2 linked regions of the Homo sapiens genome follow. The protein of the gene in region 2 purifies or fractionates together with the protein of the main gene of each other region. This does not show direct contact. Each region holds a gene or a part of one and is shown on either strand. Other genes may lie near its edges.

The links. Proteins that work in one complex are often made in the same cells at the same time.
Region 1: the proteins of HPN (region 2) and MGAT1 purify together in Homo sapiens (co-immunoprecipitation; 2 studies listed by BioGRID and IntAct, with this or other methods). This does not show direct contact.

What each region holds. Positions count from the first base shown.
Region 1 is NC_000005.10:180,800,618-180,804,362, reverse strand, and holds the start of MGAT1 (alpha-1,3-mannosyl-glycoprotein 2-beta-N-acetylglucosaminyltransferase), read left to right. Parts: upstream 1-1,556; 5' UTR 1,557-1,683; exon of another isoform or gene 1,684-1,687; intron 1,688-3,745. UniProt on the Homo sapiens protein: Initiates complex N-linked carbohydrate formation. Essential for the conversion of high-mannose to hybrid and complex N-glycans.
Region 2 is NC_000019.10:35,048,114-35,051,758, forward strand, and holds part of HPN (serine protease hepsin precursor), read left to right. Parts: intron 1-1,149; exon of another isoform or gene 1,150-1,176; coding exon 1,177-1,278; intron 1,279-1,361; coding exon 1,362-1,403; intron 1,404-2,332; coding exon of another isoform or gene 2,333-2,408; intron 2,409-3,645. UniProt on the Homo sapiens protein: Serine protease that cleaves extracellular substrates, and contributes to the proteolytic processing of growth factors, such as HGF and MST1/HGFL. Plays a role in cell growth and maintenance of cell morphology.

The sequences.
Region 1 (3,745 bases), on a different chromosome or scaffold from region 2:
GCCCTCTCAAAGCACTGGCGCTGGAGGATGTGTGCGGGGGTGTTGGGGGGCGCACAGGAGTGCCCGGTCTAAAACCTGGCTATGCTCCCCACCAGGTCTGGTGGCTTGCAGCACGTTTGCACTTACCCTGAGCCTCAAACTAGTTATCTGTAGAATGGGGATGATAACGCTCACTCCGCAGAGCTGCTGAGGCTTGAAGGACAGGCCGAGGGAGGGTTTGGCCCGTGAGGCCCCTCACCATGCCTGGTGACCCCTTAGCAGTTTTGATTTAGGTCCTCGCCTCCACGCAGGGGCCTGCGGGTGCGCGCGGCCCTTTGTTTCTCTAGAACCCTGCACGATTCGTGGTTTCATGTAGAAACAAGTTAGTGAGCAGTCAGTCAGTAACCACAGGCCGCAGAGTTCCGGGCTGCTCCGTGCTCTGGAACACGGGGGAGGGGTTGATGTCAGGGGCGTGGGTCCTGATCACATGGCAGCAGCCCTTCTTGGGGAAGTCAGCTACCCAGCAGCCTGTAGTCCTCGGCTACCCACCCTCACCGCCTGGGGTCCCATGGTGAGACAGCTGGGTGGGCATCAGGCTTCTGCAGAGGGCCAGGCCGGAGGGAGCTGGGCGAGGGAGTGGGGCTGGCTCCTGGCTTGCACCGGCCTCGTGGAATCCAGGCCTCAGACCTGATCGCTGGCGAAACTGGCTCTGTGCGCTGGAGCCCCTGGTCTTCTGCGTCTGTCCTCCTCCCGGCCAGACTTTACTCCTGGCTCAGCGACAGGTATTTGCTATGGAAGAGCTGTCCCTCCCTCCCCTCGGTGGGCCTGGGTCCACCTCCACCTCCTCTTCAGGTCCGCACCTTCCTCCCCTTTAAAACACCAGCCGGGCGCAGACCCGTTCTAGGCTTTTCCATGGTGCTTCCGCCAAAGCTTGTGACCGAGTCCTTCCCGCCTAGGGCTGGTGGGCCTCCCCTGCTGGTAGGTCTCTCTTCGCTTTCTTTACTCAGAACTGAAGCTCTCATTCCCCACCCACCAAGGAAAAACAAAAGGGAAGAAGCCACAGCTGGCCCCGGCTTGCTTTGGCACAGGTGTTTCCCCCCGGCCCCCCGTCGGGCACCCTGGTTCCTGTTCTGTCCCTGCCCCACGCGACCCTGGGGCTCCCACCCGGGCTCCTCAGCCTCCCCTGGGTTGGGGTGGGGGGACTGGCTCCCAGCCCTTGGCCTAGGGTTTGGTGAACGCCTTTCCTGGACTGCGGGCCCACTTCAGGCGCGGCTCCAGGCTGGGCAGCTGCGCTGGAGGGCCGAGGGCAGGGGTGGGGTCGGGCGTCCACCCTCAGGGTTGCGCCAGGGAGCCGGAAAGCCGACTCCCGAAGTTGGGGTCCTGGGAAAACTTGGGTCCTGGGTTGACTGAGAAGCGGCGGGGAAAGGAGGCGGGCCAGGAGGAGGGGGCCTGGCGGACGCCGGCCGGGGGGCGGGGCGCGGCGGGGCTGTCGGTCACGCCCCTCAGTCCGCCCCGCCCCGCCCCGCCTGCCGGGGAAGGGCCACGTTGCCCGCCCGGCCGTCCGGCCCCGGCGCGCCGCAGAAAGGGCTGGCGAGTCGAAAGGCGAGGCGGCCGCGGCAGCGCTTGGGACGCGCCTGGGCACCGGGCTCGCTCCCTGCGCCCCGGAGCAGGCCAAGTTCGGGGCCAGGACGTCGGGAGGACCTGGTGAGTAGGTGTCCGGGGACGGAGGTCAGACCGGGGGAGGCCTCGCGGGCGCCGAGAGGGAGCCCAAGGGACGTCGGGTCGCCCCAAAGCCCCGGTGCCCATGAGTGCTAGCGAGAGGGGGCTTGGCTGGGGAGCGGCCCGGTCCGACCCGGTGCCAGCTGCGCGTTAGTCCCTTCCCGAGCCGAGAGGTTGGAACTCCGCCTTCTGCTTTCGGAATCCCGGGCCTCCAGCTGTTAGAGGAAGGGCGGGCTCCGCGGACTGGGGAGGATGTTGTGAAACTCGGCCCCGGGCGTCCGTGCGTGCGGGGCAGGGAGGGGGTGGGATTGGGGAGTGGCCTTTCCCCCCTAACCTCACTCCAGCATCCTTTCCCCAAGTTAATAGAGGCTGATTCTCCTCAGCAGAAAGGAAATGTTGATTCAGTGTTGAAATATATATATAATAAGTTGGCAAGAAAACTTTTCTTCCTGTTTGCTAACGTGTGTGGAGTAGAGAGCCCCGGGACGTGCAGTGCCCGCGTCTGATAAACTCTGAAGTAGAGGGACTGTGGCTGGCCGGCTCCCTGAAGGCTGAAGCTTCACTTTGGTTAACCCTTGCTGCTGTAGTGGGTCTGCCGTTTTGTTTTAGAACATCACTGGCTGAGATGTTGCCCAGCTTTATTTTCAGTCATTTACGGTATTTTTTCAGGCCGTGTAGCCTTTGCTCTTACGTGCTCACATCATCCAGGATCTGCCTTCCATCAGCAATCACTGCGTCCTGGTCCTTCCCAATTCTGGGGACCATTGAGCTCACCCATTTCCCTGCTTCTGTGTCTCATTCTCACTGTTAGAAGCACTGCGGTATGCCTGACCTCAGTGGCCTGTGTTAACAAGGGAAACTCATTACTGTTCGGGGCAGTAGGGAAATTGTCACTGTCGTCAGTATCCAGGCAGTGGGACCTTGTGATGAACCAAATCAACCCTGTCACCTTATAGATGAGAGAACTAAGGTACAAGTGGGTCAAGTGACTTGTCCAAAGTTGCCTGGCTTGCTGGCTGGATCGCCTGAATCCCAGGCCTCATGCCTTTTGTGGCACTTGTATTTAGCTCTTCTTTTCCAGGATGAATAACCTGCATCCCTTCCCTCCTAGGTCTTATTCTCTCAACTCTTGAATTATTTAGTGTATCTTCTCTGACTACCTTTCTTTTTTTTCCGTCCTGAAATTATGGGCCTGGTACATGATACAGGAGTCCAGCCAAGGTCTAAGAACGAACATGAAAGCAGTTCAGTTAGAGTTCCATTACCTGTGACATGTCTATATTTTCTGGAATTTTTACGTAGTGCTTTTTAACTTTAAGCAAAGCAGAGATAGAAGGGAAAATCTGTTACCATTTCTTCCACTTCTGTACTTAATTTTACAGCTAAATATAACTTCTCGCTTATTGCTCATGATTGGAAGTTGACTATCTGGTGTTCACTTGCTATTTAAGAAACATTTTTTGCCAGATAAAGGAAATAGGCTGGAGAACACCATGGTATCAGAGTGTTAGAAAGGATCTCACAGCTCCTAGGCAGTCCTTCAAATGCTTCAGAAACTGAGTGAGCCCCATAGGGGCAGGTGGCGCCTACCCAGAGCCACCTCGGTTTTAGCTGAAGGGTTTTGTACTGAAAAGACTCACTTCTCATCTCCCACCATGGTGCAGATGTCTTTGTACCTGGTGGTGTGGATTGGCTGTGTCACCTCCCTAAAGGAGTTGTGAAAACTCTAGAAAGTCAAAGCCAGTTTTGAGTCTGTGCCTTGCATGCCAGTCTCATAAATGACATCATTAGGAACTCAGGTCAGGATTAAGGGCAGTTGTTCTATTTAAAAAGGAAGGTGTAGCAGATTGTATTTTCCCTCAAGGGCCTCACCCGTAAGTATCCCCTTCCACATGTAGTTATAGTTTGACATTGTCCACTTCCCACCTAGTGGTGGGGTTTATGATTCTCTCCCCTTGCATGTCAATAGGGACTTGTGGTTCCCTTGACCAGTGAGTAAGACAGACCTGATCCAAGGCTGAATCAGGAACAGGATACACTTTCACCT
Region 2 (3,645 bases):
AGGCTGAGGCTCAGAGAGGGGAGGGGAGTTGCTCAGGCCCACACATCTCTGATGATTTATAAAGCATTTATAGAGAACTTGCTATGTGCCAGGCACTTCCGCACAGTGAGAGCCAGGATGGCTTCGTGGCTGTACACAGGGGACCTGGCATCAAACCTGCCCAGGGTTCTGGACGCTGCTCTGCCTCTTCCAGGCTGTCACTGTGGGCACGTGACCCCACTTCTCTGAGCTATCTCAAAAACAGGAATCATAGTTGTGGGATTGAAATAAGGACTAAATGAGCTGATGTATTTAGAACGGTGCTTAGCACCTGGAGGCATCAATACAATTTGAGCTATTCTTCTTCTTCTTGAAAATAACTTTAAATTATTATTTTTAGAAGTAGGTGCTCAGTGGATGCCCATTTAATAGATAAGAAAGTTGAGGCTCAAAGATATGATGGCACCTGCCTTAGGTTCCAGCTAGGAAGGGGTAGGGTCAATATTTTTAAATGAGGCTGGCCAGACGCAGTGGCTCACTCCTGTAATCTCAGCATTTTGGGAGGCTGAGGAAGGAAGATCGCTTCAGCCCAGGAGTTTGAGACCAGCCTGGGCAACATAGCAAGACCACGTCGCTAAAAAAATTAATACATAAAATAAAATGAGGCTGGCAGATTTTCAAGTGGAGGGGCAAATTTGATCTTGCAACTGGGTACCATGAGAGAGGTCTGATTTAGGGGGTATCTAGGGGCAAAGCATCTAGAACAGCAGAAACGACTGAGGCAGCGAGGAAATGCCAGCGGCAGGGAAGAGAGCTACCAAGAGGGCAAAGGTTGGGGGTCACAGTCCCAAGAAGAGATGGCCCAAAGCAAAGACAGAAATACAAAAGCACAGTGTCACTGGGGAGGAGACATTCCCTAAGTGCCAGGAAAGTGCAGGGCGGAGGTGGAGACCGTGGCAGGTGGCCCGGCCATGCCCCCCTCCCAGCTGGAACCCTGGGGGAGCTGGGCACCTGGTTGTTCACACGGCAGGGGAGGAACAGCCCTGTCAACTGCTGGCCCCGGGAAACTGGGCCTGGGGAGGACATGCTTGGGCATAATAAGTTAGCCCTGGGGGCAGGGCAGAGCTGGCCTCGGGCCCAGACCCTGCCGCAATGAGGACAGGCCTGGCTGTGGCCCCAGCATGGTGTCTGTTGCAGGTGGCCGGACTGTGCCATGCTGCTCCAGACCCAAGGTGGCAGCTCTCACTGCGGGGACCCTGCTACTTCTGACAGCCATCGGGGCGGCATCCTGGGCCATTGGTGAGAGCGGTTCCTGTGCCTCTGACCTCCCCTGGCCCCTGCAGCCTCCAGCCTGCCTGCCCTCACCCCTCCCTTCTCTGCAGTGGCTGTTCTCCTCAGGAGTGACCAGGAGCCGCTGTACCCAGGTGAGTGGAGCAGGCTGGGACCCTCTGGGGGAGCCCTGGAGGACACGTGTATCTGGCGGGAGCTCAACAAGCGTATTTGTTGAATAAATGCACAAATGCATGCAGAAATGCTAATCATAATAGTGCATTTGTATTGAGTGCCTGCTATGTACCAGGCACTATTCTAAGCACCCCACATGTCTAACCCAGACTTTTTCAGACACCAGTGTATTACTCATGAGTGCCTCATAAAATTAAATTAGTGAGTTGGAAAACCATGTTTTTTTTTTAAGTATGAAATAGATTCGATTACAGACTATCACAGTACATCTCTCAGTAAGTAAAGGTTATGCTAATTTTTGTTTGTTTTTTTTTTTTTTTGCATCCATATACATGTAATCCCACTGCATCCCCACACTCTGAGGGTGGGACTGTTATTCTCCCTGTTTTACAGATGGGGAAACTGAGGCTTTGAGCAATGCAGCAGTTTGCCCCAGACTACAGAGCTATGGGCTACATCAGGATGTAAAAATGTGTTTCTTACTGCGTGGCATGGTGAAAACATGTTGGGGAGGCATGATATAAATTCAGTGGACCCTTCTAACTCTCCTAGGAGGTAGTTTTTTTGTTTGTTTGTTTTAAAAAAGAAAAAAGTCTTGCTCTGTCACCCAGGCTAGAGTGCAATGGTGCAGTCTCAGCTCACCGCAACCTCTGCCTCCCAGGTTCAAGCGATTCTCCTGCTTCAGCCTCCCAAGTACCTGGGAATACAGGCGTGTGCCACCATGCCCAGTTAATTTTTTGTATTTTTAGTAGAGATGAGATTTCACCATGTTGGCCAGGACGGTCTCTATCTCCTGACCTTGTGATCCACCCGCCTCGGCCTCCCAAAGTGCTGGGATTACAGGCATGAGCCACTGCGCCTGTCCCTGGTAATTAGCTCCATTTTACAGATGTGCAAAATGAGGACCAGAGAGGACATGCAGCTGGGGAACGAGGGGCCAGGAACAGCTCTTAGACTTATCCACTGTAAGTGTGTCTGCAGGCATGTGGAATGAATGGCCACACAAATAAATAGATAAAGAAACTAACTGTGGGATGAATGAATGAATCTTCCCAAATGCCAACTTCAAGCTGCCATTCCCTGATGCAGGACAGCAGGAAAAAAGGGGAAGTTGGGTGGTGGGATGTATTTTTCATGTCTGTGAGCCTCATCTAATTCCATAAAGGATTCAGTTCACACTAAAATCAGAAATGAAAATCCAGACAAGAAAAGCCAACATCAACATTAATCATCATTACCAGCACTTAGCATTTGTATGCACCAGCCAAGGCCTTGGGACCTTATGATATCAACTCATTAAGTCTTCCCAACAACCTGTTGTTTTTCTTTTCTTTTTTTTTTCTTTCTTTCTTTCTTTCTTTTTTTTTTTTTTTTTTTTGAGATGGGGTCTTGCTCTGTCGCCCAGGCTGGAGTGCAGTGACACGATCTTAGCTCATTGTAACCTACATCTCCTGGGCTCAAGCAATCCTCCCATCTCAGCCTTCTGAGTAGCTGGGACTATAGGCTAATGCCACCATGCCTACACAAAATTATTTTGTCAATAACAAATTATTGTTATTTTTATCTTTTTGAGCCAGAGTCTCGCTGTGTCGCCCAGGCAGGAGTGCTGTGGCGCGATCTTGGCTCACTGCAATCTCCATCTCCCAGGTTCAAGTGATTCTCCTGCCTCAGCCTCCTGAGTAGCTAGGACTACAGGCACGTGCCACCACACCCAGCTAATTTTTGTATTTTTAGTAGAGGCGGGGTTTCACCATGTTGGCCAGGATGGTCTCAAACTCCTGACCTCAGGTGATCCACCCGTCTCGGCCTCCCAAAGTGCTGGGACTACAGGCATGAGCCACCACACCCAACCTCATTTTTTAAATTTTTAGTAGAGATGGGATCTTGCTACATTGCCCAGTCTGATCTTGAACTCCTGAGCTCAAAGCAGTCCTCTCAGATCAGCCTCCCAAAGTGCAGGGATTACAGGTGTGCACCACCACAACCCATTTTCCTATGGGGATGCTGAGGCACAGAAAGGCTGAGTGACTTGCCCCAGGTCATGGAGCTAGTCAGTGTCAGGGCTGGGATTTGAACCCAGGCAGCCTGCGTAGTAACTGTATATAGTGTCTACACTTGATTGCTTGTTAAAAAAAAAAAAAAAGAACAGCTGAATTCATTGCCATAGTAAAGACTGACATATGCCAGGCCCTGGCGGCAGCC